Homo sapiens: one gene and its partners. The protein of the gene in region 3 interacts with the protein of the main gene of each other region in a biochemical or structural test. Each region holds a gene or a part of one and is shown on either strand. Other genes may lie near its edges.

Region 1 (3,251 bases), on a different chromosome or scaffold from region 3:
TATCATTGTCATCCAACGGACAAACTCCAAGAAAAAAGAAGCAGAGCAGGACCATGCAGCTGAGCCCGAGTCACCTCTCCTGCCCCACATCTCTGCCCCTACTTTTCTTTTTTCTTTTTGTTTTGTTTTGTTTTTTGTTTTTGAGATGGAGTTTTGCTCCTATCGCCCAGGCTGGAGTGCAATGGTGCGATCTCGGCTCACTGCAAACTCCTCCTCCTGGGTTCAAGTGATTCTCCTGCCTCAGCCTCCTGAGTAGCTGGGATTACAGGCACCAGCCCAGCTAATTTTTGTATTTTTAATAGAGATGAGGTTTAGCCATGTTGGCCAAGCTGGTCTCGAACTCCTGACCTCAAGTGATCCACCCACCTCAGCCTCCCAAAGTGCTAGGATTACAGGCGTGAGCCACTGTGCCCAGCCCTCTGCCTCTACTTTTCATATATTCATTCAACCATTTATTGGGCACCTGCTCTGTACAAGACCTGGTGCTAGATGCTGCGGAATTCAAAGATGAATAACATTCCCTGTCCTCAAGGGGCTCATAATTTTCAGATCCATCCTCAGGTCAAGAGAGAGCTTTCCCACTCTCTGGTCTCAAGAAAAGAAATCAGGATGGGGTGTAAGTAAGAAACATTTGTGTTTCAAGGAGGAAGCTTTATTTGGGAAGAGTGCGGTTCTGCTCGGCCCTGATCAGCTCTGCCCTGCCCACCCCATCTCAGCCAGGCGGCTTTACTTCTTCCTGATCTTCAGGTCTTTCTTCTTCCTGATTTCCTTGGCCAGCTCCCCAATCAATCTCCAGTACTCATTGAACTTGAGCTCCGAGTCCTGATTCACATCCAAGCTCTTCATCTTCTCATCAAGAGAGCCCACATCCTGAGGAGACACCAAAGGGAAGGGTAGAGTTAGAAACTGGGGTTCTTGAGAAAGTAGGGAGGGAAGAACTGTCAGCTGCTATTCTCTCAAGGCCCTTCCCTCAGAGAGCAGTGGCACCTGCCCCTTCTCTAAAGAAGGAGGCTGCAGCCCCAAAACTGCACCGCCACGGGGTGCCTCTCCAAGGAGCACCAGCAGAGAAAGGTGGGGGGGCCTGAGTCCTAGTGCTTGCCGTTGTGTAAATACTTCCACGATGGCTGCTTACAAACCACAAACAGGTTGTCGCTGAATACAAAGCTGGAAAGAAATCCACACAATCTTCTCTCACCAGCACACCACTGCAGCTGCTGTGGGATCGGCCCAAGGAATGCCAGCATCTCAGGGAGATGCTGCAGGGTTGGACCCAGTCAGAGCCTTCTGGGGCCACCCTCCTCTTTCTCAGAAAGCTGGAGAAGCTCCCAGTACTTAGCTGCTCATTTGCACAACCCTTGTGTCTTTTCATTTATCCAGCTGGGTCACTAGATCAGGGGAATGGCAAGGGCATGGAGTATCTGGGTTTTTAGGGGCCCTTGACAGGGTATCTCTCATAGGCCTGTGAAATCAATGGCAACAGTAAACTGGATGTCCTGATCGAAGGACCTGTTGCCAGATAAACAAGCACAACCAAAAAGTTGACTGTTGAACAATAGTTCAACATCAAACCAGAGAAGGGTGCCTCAGGCAGGGTGTGAGGCTCAAGGTTTGAACCAACATTTGGATGCAGACAGAGAAGACTCACTGAATCTCTAAAGGGAACAAAGCTGATTCACAGAAGAACTAAAAAAGACTTTTTTTTAAGTTACAACCACGTTTAATTATAAAATACTATAAGCACTGCCAGTGGAAGGCAAGGATGGCTACTGTAACATTATATTGGGGGTGCATTCAATCAGTAAAGAGAAATAAATAAGTATTAAGAAAGAAGAAGCAGGAAGGGTGCGGTGGCTCACGCCTGTAATCTCAACGCTTTGGGAGGCTGAGGTGGGCGGATCACTTGAGGTCAGGAGTTTGAGACCAGCCTGGCCAACATGGTGAAACCCTGCCTCTACTAAAAATACAAAAATTAGCCAGATATGGTGGTGGGAGCCTGTAATCCCAGCTACTCGGTAGGCTGAGACAGGAGAATTGCTTGAACCTGGGAGGCGGAGGTTGTGGTGAGCAGAGATCGCGCCATTGCACTCCAGTCTGGGCTACAGAGTGGGACTCTGTCTCAAAAAAAGAAAAAAAAATACAAAAATTAGCTCGGTGTGATAGTGCACACCCGTAGTCCCAACTACTTGGGAGGCTGAATCAGAAGAATCGCTTGAGTGTGGGAGGCAGAGGCTGTAGTGAGCCGAGATCAAGCCACTGCCCTCCAGCCTGGGTGACAGAGTGAGACTATCTAAAAAAAAAAAAAAAAAGAGCTGTGACAGAAACAAAACAAAGGCCAAATACCAAATACCATACCAGTATCAGTGGGTTCCACAGCCCTGGATTCAACCAACCTAGAACCAAAAATATTTGAAGAAAAAAATCCACAAAGTTCCAAAAAGCAAAACTTAAATTTTGCCCCATGCTAAGTACTAAGTTGAATCCATGTGAATGAAGTGATGAGTAGGCACTGCATTATGTATTACAAGTAACCTAGAGTTACTTGTAATTTAAAGTATACAGGAGGATGTGCATAGGTTATATGCAAGTACTATCTGATTTTATATAAGGGATTTGAGGCCAGGCATGGTGGCTCACACCTGCAATCTCAGCACTTTGGGGAGGCCAAGGTGAGAGGATCGCTTGAGCCCAGGAGTTCAAGACCAGCCAGGGCAACATTGTGAGACACCCATCTCTACAAGAAAAGGACAAAAAAAGGTAATTGAGCATCCAAGGATTTTGGCATCCAAGGGGGTTCTGGGAACAATTCCCATGGATACAAAATGACAACTATATATTTCATATTATACCACAGGGATATTAAAAAAAACCTTGAATAAATAGAAAATGGAATAAACATATATTTTTCTTAAAGAGAAAGGCTCAATCAGCTAAAAATGTTGATTTTCCCTAAAATATATCTTTTATATGATCCCAATTAAACTATCTACAGGATTTTTTTTTTTTTTTGAGATGGAGTCTTACTCTGTCGCCCAGGCTGGCGTGCAGTAGTATGATCTCAGCTCACTGCAACCCCCACCTTCTGGGTTCAAGCAATTCTCCTGCCTCAGCCTCCCGAGGAGCTGGGATTATAGGCACCCACCACCACGCCTTGCTAATTTTTCTATTTTTAGTAGAGATGGGGTTTCACCATGTTTGCCAGGCTAGTCTCAAACTCCTGACCTCAGGTGATCCACCCACCTCAGCCTCCAAAA
Region 2 (3,940 bases), on a different chromosome or scaffold from region 3:
ATAACTTATCATTAACTACTATTGTATCAATATGATCACACCATGTCATATCATATTATATTATATCATATATACACATATATATGTATATATCATATATATACATATATATATGTTTAAAGACATATATATATGTGTGTGTATATATATATGTGTTTAAAGACAGGATCTTTCTATGTTGCCCAGGCTGGAATGCAATAGCTATTCACAAGTGTAATCATAGCACACTACGGCCTCAAACTCTTGGACTCAAGCAATCCTCTCGCCCCAGCCTCCTGAGTACTGGAACTACAGGCACATGCCATGATGGCCAGCCATACAATATATTTTTATTTGCTTGTCTATTTATTTATTTTCTATTCTCTCCCAAATAATATGCAAGCTCTAAGAGGACAAGGACTTTGTGTCTTTGGTCTCTGATGCTCAGAGAATATTTGTTGAGTGAGTGAATGAATGAATGAATGGTGGACATTCAATAAATAATTCGATAAATAAATAATTGGTGATCAAATGAACAAATGGGGCAGGAGTTCTAAGGGATCTAAATCAGACTGCCAGAAGAGCAGGGGTAAGGTGTGATCAAGTTTGGGAACCGCAGGCATGGAAAGAAAAAAGTTCACAGACACTATTCAGAACTTTTCGTGAGTGTGTTTATTAACTCTTACTCCCCACGGGCAAGGCTGGGTTTTGGTGAGGGAAAGAAAAGACCCTCATTGAGGACATTGCTGGGTAAAAAGCCTTCAGAGAGCTACCTACTCTTTGTGGGTGTGGTAATGGGCAGCCTTCAGCGCAATGGCTACCAGGGATATGAATTCTTGAAAGTCGACCTGTTCATCTTGATTAGCATCCAGGCCTTGGAATATTTCATCAATGACAGCTTTATCTTTGATATTCTAGGAAAAAAGGACAACAGAGACCTTGAGTTCAGAACCTCCACACAAGACCCTTTCTTAGGCCTCTTATCCCTCAGAGCTCGGGTTGTGAAGGCCCAGGCACATTAACTCATTAGCCAACACTGTGTTGGAGAATCCAGTGTAACAAAACAGAGAACACAATGGTCATGAACCACCCTGGAATTAACAAGGCTTGACCTGGAAGGTACTCTTCTGCTCACTCATTCAACCCCTCCCGTGCCCTGCCTCTCTCCATTTTACATATGAGGAAACAGACTCAGAGAGAGGAACTGAGTAGAGCCTTAAGTGAGTTATTGAGAGAGGGAAGCAAAGGACCTCTCCCACAGCAGCGGGGAGAGCATCCTTTGGGAGCTCAAACTGGGGCCAACCCCACCCCAGTCCTTGTCCCACCATCCTCTGCCAGGCCTTGCCACTCCCCTCAGTGCAGGGTCATGGGCAAGTTTGCAGTGAGAGGGGCATCACCTACCTTGATGGTGTTTGCAAGCTCCTTTGTAAGCAGCTGCTTCAGCTCACCCTTAGAGAGGGTGTCAAAATGCCCCTTCCGAACTGAGTATTGGTGGAAGATATTGACAATTCCCTCCAGATGCTCTTCAAGTTTTGTCATCTTCCCAGCCTAATGTTAACCTTCAAGGAAACAAGGGAAGTCTAGAGGCAGTTTCTCCCCCACCCCTCAACCTCCACTCTCCCCTCTCTTTCTGAATCAAGGGCCTAAAGAAAACATAACATCCTCCATATCTATTTTGTGGTCTCTGCTCTGTTTGATCCATGGTGAACTTCTCATGTGTGGATAGGATGGGGAGGAGAAAACATATAATACTGTCTAACGTCTAAAAAAATCAGCCTCAGTTGCCCATGTTCCATACCACCTCATCCACCGGGGTGCATAACTTGGAGGGTATTGCTTACTCAAGGTCCCTTGGGAAGGGTTCTGTGATTGGCCAGGCTGTTTGCTTTCCTCAGGTGATGGCACTATGGCCACATATCCCCCACAAATGGTCCATAACCCACCCCTGCTTAGCCATTCTTTTTTTGTTGTTGTTGTTTTGGGTTTTTTGTTTGTTTGTTTGTTTGTTTTTGAGACGGAGTCTCACTCTGCCGCCCAGGCTGGAGTGCAGTAGGGCGATCTCGGCTCACTGCAAGTTCTGCCTCCCGGGTTCACGCCATTCTCCTGCCCCAGCCTCCCGAGTAGCTGGGACTACAGGCACCCGCCACCACGCCCGGCTAATTTTTTGTATTTTTTTAGTAGAGACGGGGTTTCACCATGTTAGCCAGGATGGTCTCGATCTCCTCACCTCATGATCCGCCCGCCTCGGCCTCCCAAAGTGCTGGGATTACAGGCGTGAGCCACCGTACCCGGCCTGCTTAGCCATTCTTAAATCATGGGACTGAGTCTACATAGCACAACAAGAGCTGATCTACTTGGGTCCAAAATGCAATATCACCCCAGAGGTGCTCAGGCAAGTGGAGGGTTGTGGTTTCCAACACCTTGTGATTTCAAAGTGGTCACCTGCAGTCACTACCCTGTGGACCACCTAAGAACCCATCCAAGGAAAATGCACTTACCCCTCAATGCACAGGAATGTGGAGCTACAGCAAAAAGCCAGCAGTGGTGAAGGGCACTGAGCCAAGGAAGGTTTTATAATCAGTTCAGGCTTCATCTTAGCCCTTGGGTGAAGAAATCTCTGATTCATCTTGAGGCAATTTATGTAAAGTACTCTGTTGCTCAATAGAAGCTTCAAACCTGTGGCTTAGGCTGCCACAGGAGCAGCCCAGATTGTACCCAGACTGAATTTTGCCCTCCTGCTCAGCCTGAAACAAAATCACCCCCACTCCACCCACCCGCACAGGGGTGCCCTGAACCTTTTTTAGCCCTGAGCCAGGGCCCAGGTTTCAGGTTTAGCTCTACTCCACTGCTCCCTAATAAAAGACTAGGAGAACAAACTTTACAGCCTGAGTGTCTTGTTTTAACAGATGAGGTTACCAGCTCTTCAGTTTTGGCAAATGGAATATCAACTTAAAGATCTTTATGCAGCTAAGGAGATAGGTAGGGAGACCTCCTCCTAAGTCGTTCTGGGATGCAAAGTTCATCACTGGAGCAGAGGATCAGTTTTCAAAATAGATTCCAAGGTTTTCAAAAAAGGAGAGAGCAATGCTACTATGCCTCCCCTTTGCTTTCCCAACTTTCTAACTTGGCTGTTACAAAGACCTAGAAAGCTGGAGTAGGGTAATCATTGTGTGTGAAGAAAGTTCACCATGCCTAGGTTACTTTACCATGTTCATGAGTTCAGTAAGACAGAACATTCACACGAGTTTTAGTAAAGCAACTTTATTACTCACAGAGAGGCAGCAAGGGACAACAGATGCCCAGGATTCATGGAGAGGTGGTCCTTCAAGATTCAGAAACCTGCCCAAAATGGATTAAGTCTCATCTGTACATTCCCCATGTCGCACCAAAGCTAAGGGACATCCAAAAGCACTCTGCCCTTGGTTTATGCCTAGAGGTCAATAAGATTGCTGAGCAATCAAGGCCATGCCAGAACCTGTGCTGCCATCTACCCCACAACACAGATATCCCCCTTAGCAAAGCTAGTTCATTTCATGTGCCCACCGACCTCTCTGGATCTGGAGGCAAAAGTCTGTCTCTCCGATCCATGTGTCACCTTGACTGACACAATCTCAGTGCAACATTGTTAAGCCATTGACAGTATTTGTTTCACTAGGCCCAGGAGGACACCACCAGAGCAGGATGATCAGGCTTGTGTAAATCAATGACAATGACCAAGGTGAATCTCAATCATTTTAGGAGGTTTATTTGGCCAAAGTTAAGGATGCGTGCCCAGAGGTAGGTCTACGTCTTTCTCCAAAGATGATTTTGAGGGCTTCAATATTTGAAGGAGAAACAGTGGATATTGGGGGAAGAGGAAGAAATATTTTTTAAATGTGTCAGTAGATAAGAGACAAGTGATTGCATCCTTTTGAGTCTTTGATCAATCTTTCACTGAATACACAATTTTCATGTGGGAGCG
Region 3 (4,260 bases):
GACAACCACATCTATGAGCTAAATGAATGCCTTGGCTGGCTTTTTAAAGGGGAATTGCAACTTCCTTGGATCTGCACAGCTTTTCTCATCATTTATTTTGTCAAAGAAATAGATTGAATACTAAGAGGAATCATGTGTTTATTTTGCAAGTAAATAAAAGTCTATATTTGCCTGGCAAAAGCATGTTAAACATAGCTTTTTAACAGATGCTGAAGTTCTCTTGGAATATATTTTATTTTTTCAAAACACAGAAAGCTTAACAGAGCAATTAACATAATTCCTGCAAATAGTCCTATAGATGTTACTGACTATACCTCACTTTCCATTTGTAATTTTATTGGGAGTCAAAGCACTGTTACTCCCATGCTCTTTTCTTCCCCTGGTCAACAAAAGGGCTATGTGCTTAATCTGAAACGTTACAGTAGGAACCACTATATAATAATATTAAAGTAAAGACATAGGTAGATAGATACATAGAAAATAAGCCTTCATATTTTAGTTCATTACTCTCCTCCTTCAGCCCTGTTAAGCTTTCAAGACAGTAAAGTCTGATTATCATGACACTCTTACATCCTTTGTAGCCCTATACAGCTCAACAATAAATAATGGTTTATCTCTGTTCAGTCCTTTTTGTTGCTGTTGTTTTTCTAGGAATTAATCATTTTTTTAAAAAAAGACAACAACCATTTTAAGGGGACAAAATCAGGGCTTCTTTTATAGCAGGTGTGAGAAATCTTAGCTAAAGAGCCGTGAGATCCAAATGGAATTCTTCAAGCAGGCAGAATTTGTAAAACGAAAACCATTTAAGAGCACACATCTTGCCTCTTGATGAAATAAGTTGGTCCTCCCCCACCTTCTCACTCACAAGGCCCCAAAGATGGAGCTAGTTTTCCCTTCCTTCCTCCTGCTTTCACACCCGCCTAACCTCCCAATTAAGCAAGTTTAGCAAACCCAGGGAGCTCAATCCAAGTAACACAGGATTTGAAAGAGGAACCTAAAACCAATCATCCCTCTTCCGGCTTTGTCTTCTTATTTGAAATGAATGAAACATCTAGATTCATTTTCCTTTTTTTTTCTGACTCGCTGCAGGAGTAGCTTTGAGAGAGAAAGAGAAAGCATGTGAGTGTGTGTGTGTGTGTGTGCACGCGCGCGCGCTGGTGGGGGCATGGGAAAGAGAGGTATACTTTCAGAATTCTCTCCTGGTGGCTCCCTCTTTCCCTTGGGAAATCTTCGCACAAGTCTCAGATTGTGCATGTTCAACTGCTCATATCTGGAGATACTCCAGCAATGCCTTTAACCAGATCTGATCAGAAATCTCCACCTACTCAGCTAGAGGCTCCTCCATGATCAGGACGCTTGTACTGTCTTCACCACATCTGTCATTTTTTAAAAAGCTTCTTCCACTACACCTCCCACTGATATCCTTTTTTTCTCTTTTTAGTCTTTACACCTCCAGCAGGACAAAGTTTGTATTGTTATATTCACAACCACTAGTAGCTGACTAGCAGGAGAGAGAGAGAGCGGCTTCAGGAGAGCCAGGTTCGGGGGCTTCAAAAGGATACCTAGCGCAAAGCATGACTTTCCAATGACTGCGTACAACATGCACATTGCTCTCTTCTAAAAATGCTTTGTTAAATTTCATCACCCCTGTTCTCAACTCAACCACTACCACTTTGGAGAGGGAAATACAAATTGCCAGCCCAAGCCATTCATCAAACAGCAACAGAATCCACGGGGTGGTGGGGGGGATAGAGAAGAGGCGGGGGTGATGCAGGGGGTGGATTTAAAGAATCAAGGATGCACACGTACTGTATTTTCAAGAGCATCGCCTGGGCGGATTTGGTTTCTTTGGCCGGCTGTCCAGCTATAAGACCGCCCTCTTCTTCATTAAGGAGGAGCCAAAAAGGATATCTTCACATCTCAGAACACAGACCATTTCCCCCAAGAGCCAGCAAAGCTCCAGAGGCAGAGAATGCAGCTGCAAAGTTCCCTTCCAATCTCTTGGGGAAAGATGCCTGTGTGTGCAGAATCCCCAAAGCACACCACGGCACAGTGCCCAGAGACGTGGACCCCGCAGCCCACTCCCTGCTACCCCCTACATTTCTTCCTCGTCTGTCTCTGCCCCGCCACACCTCCCTCCTCTCCGCAGTCCGTGGTGAATGAGCACCCAACGCCCGCTGGAAAACAGGGGGCTCGGAAATGTGGCCTTGGGGAAAGACCCCAGGGATTACCGGAAGGAGGGATGTCCGCGGAGAAGAGTCCAGTGGGTGGGGACGCCTGGATCCCCAGCAGCTCTGCATTCGGGGTGGACTTAGCTCTTCGCGCCCTGAATCCTCAGAGCCCAGCGCGGTGCAGGGTGCAGCATCTCTCCTTAGCAGCCCTTTCTTCCTCCGGCAGCCTGCACTGGCAGGCAGGCAGGCACCCTCACGCCCAGACGCACCAGCCCGAGCAATTTCACTCTGGGAAGCGCGGACACCCAGAAAAATGTGCAGGCGCGCACACACCACATCACACACACACACACACACACACACACACACACACACACACACACACAAATTTAGAAGCCGCTCGTTTGCCAAAGCAGAGGGAAGTGTAGCCTTATGAGCAGCAAATGGAAAATAGTTCTTGGTCTCTGACTAAATGCCTTCTGCCTGTCCATCATAAGATCCTACCTGGTTTGGGGAGTGTGAATGGATTCTTCCTCCGTTCCTCCACGCTAGTAGAAAATACGGCGCACTCCCTCCTTTTAAACAGCTCCCGATCAGGAAGAGGTCGCTCCCATCTTCTGTGGGAAGCACAAAGCAGGCGGCGGCGGCGGGCTGACTACCGTGCAGCGCCGGCGCGAGCGGGAGCCGCGGCAGCGGGCAGCGGTGCGCGCGGGCGGGAGGCAGGCGCGGAGGCCGGGAGGCTGGGAGGGCCGGGGCCCGGGCGCGCGCGCGCTCCCCCTCCCTCCCGCGCACACTCGCCCGCCCGCCGCCCGCAGCCTCGCACTCGCTCACACGCGCGCTCGGCCCCGCGGCTGCCGGGCGCCCCGGGGCCCCCTGCGCGCCCCTTGGGCTCCCCAGGCGATCGCGTCGGGGCAAAGCCGGCGCGTTTCTGGAGCACCGAGCGGGTGGGGAGCCCTTCCAGCCTCCCAGCCTCTGCCGGCGAGCAGCTTTTTCGATTTCCTGCCGGCTCTCGGCCCCGCAGTGCGTTGTGGCCGCGCGCTAGCGCTGTCTCTCGCACCCAGCCCATCGATGACACGCGCACACAGGCGCTGCAACTTTTCTTTTGAACCCTCTTCTTCTCTTCCGCAGACAGAACCCTGACCCCCAATTCGCCTACCCGTTTCTCACCTCTGACTTTGTTAATCCAACTATCTTTCTTCCCTCACTTCCTGCCCTTCTGCTAAAGGAAGCTTTCTTTTAGCAAAAGGATCTGGGCATATATCAATGATTTTTTTTTTAATCCTCACCCTGTGTTTTTCTACGTATCAGATATGCACAACTATACGTTGGCTACTAGATGCTGACACAAGCAAACAGAGATATTCGGGGGAGGGTGTCCCCCGGCCAAGAACTGGGACAGAGTCTCTGTGTTGGTATTTCCCTCAAAGATGCGTTTCACCTGGGAATAAAGACCCAGAGTCTGTTTCGTGTGAAAGGCGTGCTGGTTTTAAACTACAGTGAGGAGTAAAAGCCGAGCATTAAGGTTGAGTGGGAAAAAACCTAATGCAGCAATCGACGAACCATTCTTTGCCCTTTCCAAGAGAAGCATTATCATTGCCAATAAATCACTTTCCTCATAATTAATAAAGGAACACTGCACCAGGCCTTTCCTCTCTTGACAGCTCATTCATTCTTACAAACCCTTAATGACTTCACGTGGTGAAAGGCTAGACCTACTGTGGAGTTCACTAGCTTCCAAACCTGGCTGCGCATCACACACACCTGGGAATGTAGTCAGATGCTGTAGAATCTGAGGCCGAATCTGATGCAGACTCTCCCGTTGTAGGTCTCAAATGGGGCTCCAAATTAGTATTTTTAAAACACCAGTTGCTATCGGCCACTGGTGTCGTTTGCCAAGGTGTGTGGGGGGGTCAGGAGCAGCTACTTGGGGAAGGTGGGAGAAGGAGGGACCTGCAGAGCACAAGGCAGAAAGTTAGTTTTTTTTCGTGGAGACGTCCCCCCATACTTACAGTGCAACCAGGGCAGTCACCACGACTGATAGATTCTGACTCCAGGAACCTCAGTTTGCCTCCGCAACAAAGAGGGGGCG

The links.
Region 1: the proteins of SLC8A1 (region 3) and S100A13 interact in a biophysical measurement, tested with the Homo sapiens proteins (one large-scale study listed by IntAct).
Region 2: the proteins of SLC8A1 (region 3) and S100A12 interact in a biophysical measurement, tested with the Homo sapiens proteins (one large-scale study listed by IntAct).

The regions. Positions count from the first base shown.
Region 1 is NC_000001.11:153,618,169-153,621,419, forward strand, and holds the end of S100A13 (protein S100-A13), read right to left. Parts: intron 871-3,251; coding exon 727-870; 3' UTR 631-726; downstream 1-630. UniProt on the Homo sapiens protein: Plays a role in the export of proteins that lack a signal peptide and are secreted by an alternative pathway. Binds two calcium ions per subunit. Binds one copper ion. Binding of one copper ion does not interfere with calcium binding.
Region 2 is NC_000001.11:153,373,075-153,377,014, forward strand, and holds S100A12 (protein S100-A12), read right to left. Parts: upstream 2,548-3,940; 5' UTR 2,478-2,547; intron 1,539-2,477; 5' UTR 1,519-1,538; coding exon 1,381-1,518; intron 894-1,380; coding exon 753-893; 3' UTR 637-752; downstream 1-636. UniProt on the Homo sapiens protein: S100A12 is a calcium-, zinc- and copper-binding protein which plays a prominent role in the regulation of inflammatory processes and immune response.
Region 3 is NC_000002.12:40,449,229-40,453,488, forward strand, and holds the start of SLC8A1 (sodium/calcium exchanger 1 isoform A precursor), read right to left. Parts: upstream 2,863-4,260; 5' UTR 2,676-2,862; intron 2,457-2,675; exon of another isoform or gene 2,232-2,456; intron 1-2,231. UniProt on the Homo sapiens protein: Mediates the exchange of one Ca(2+) ion against three to four Na(+) ions across the cell membrane, and thereby contributes to the regulation of cytoplasmic Ca(2+) levels and Ca(2+)-dependent cellular processes.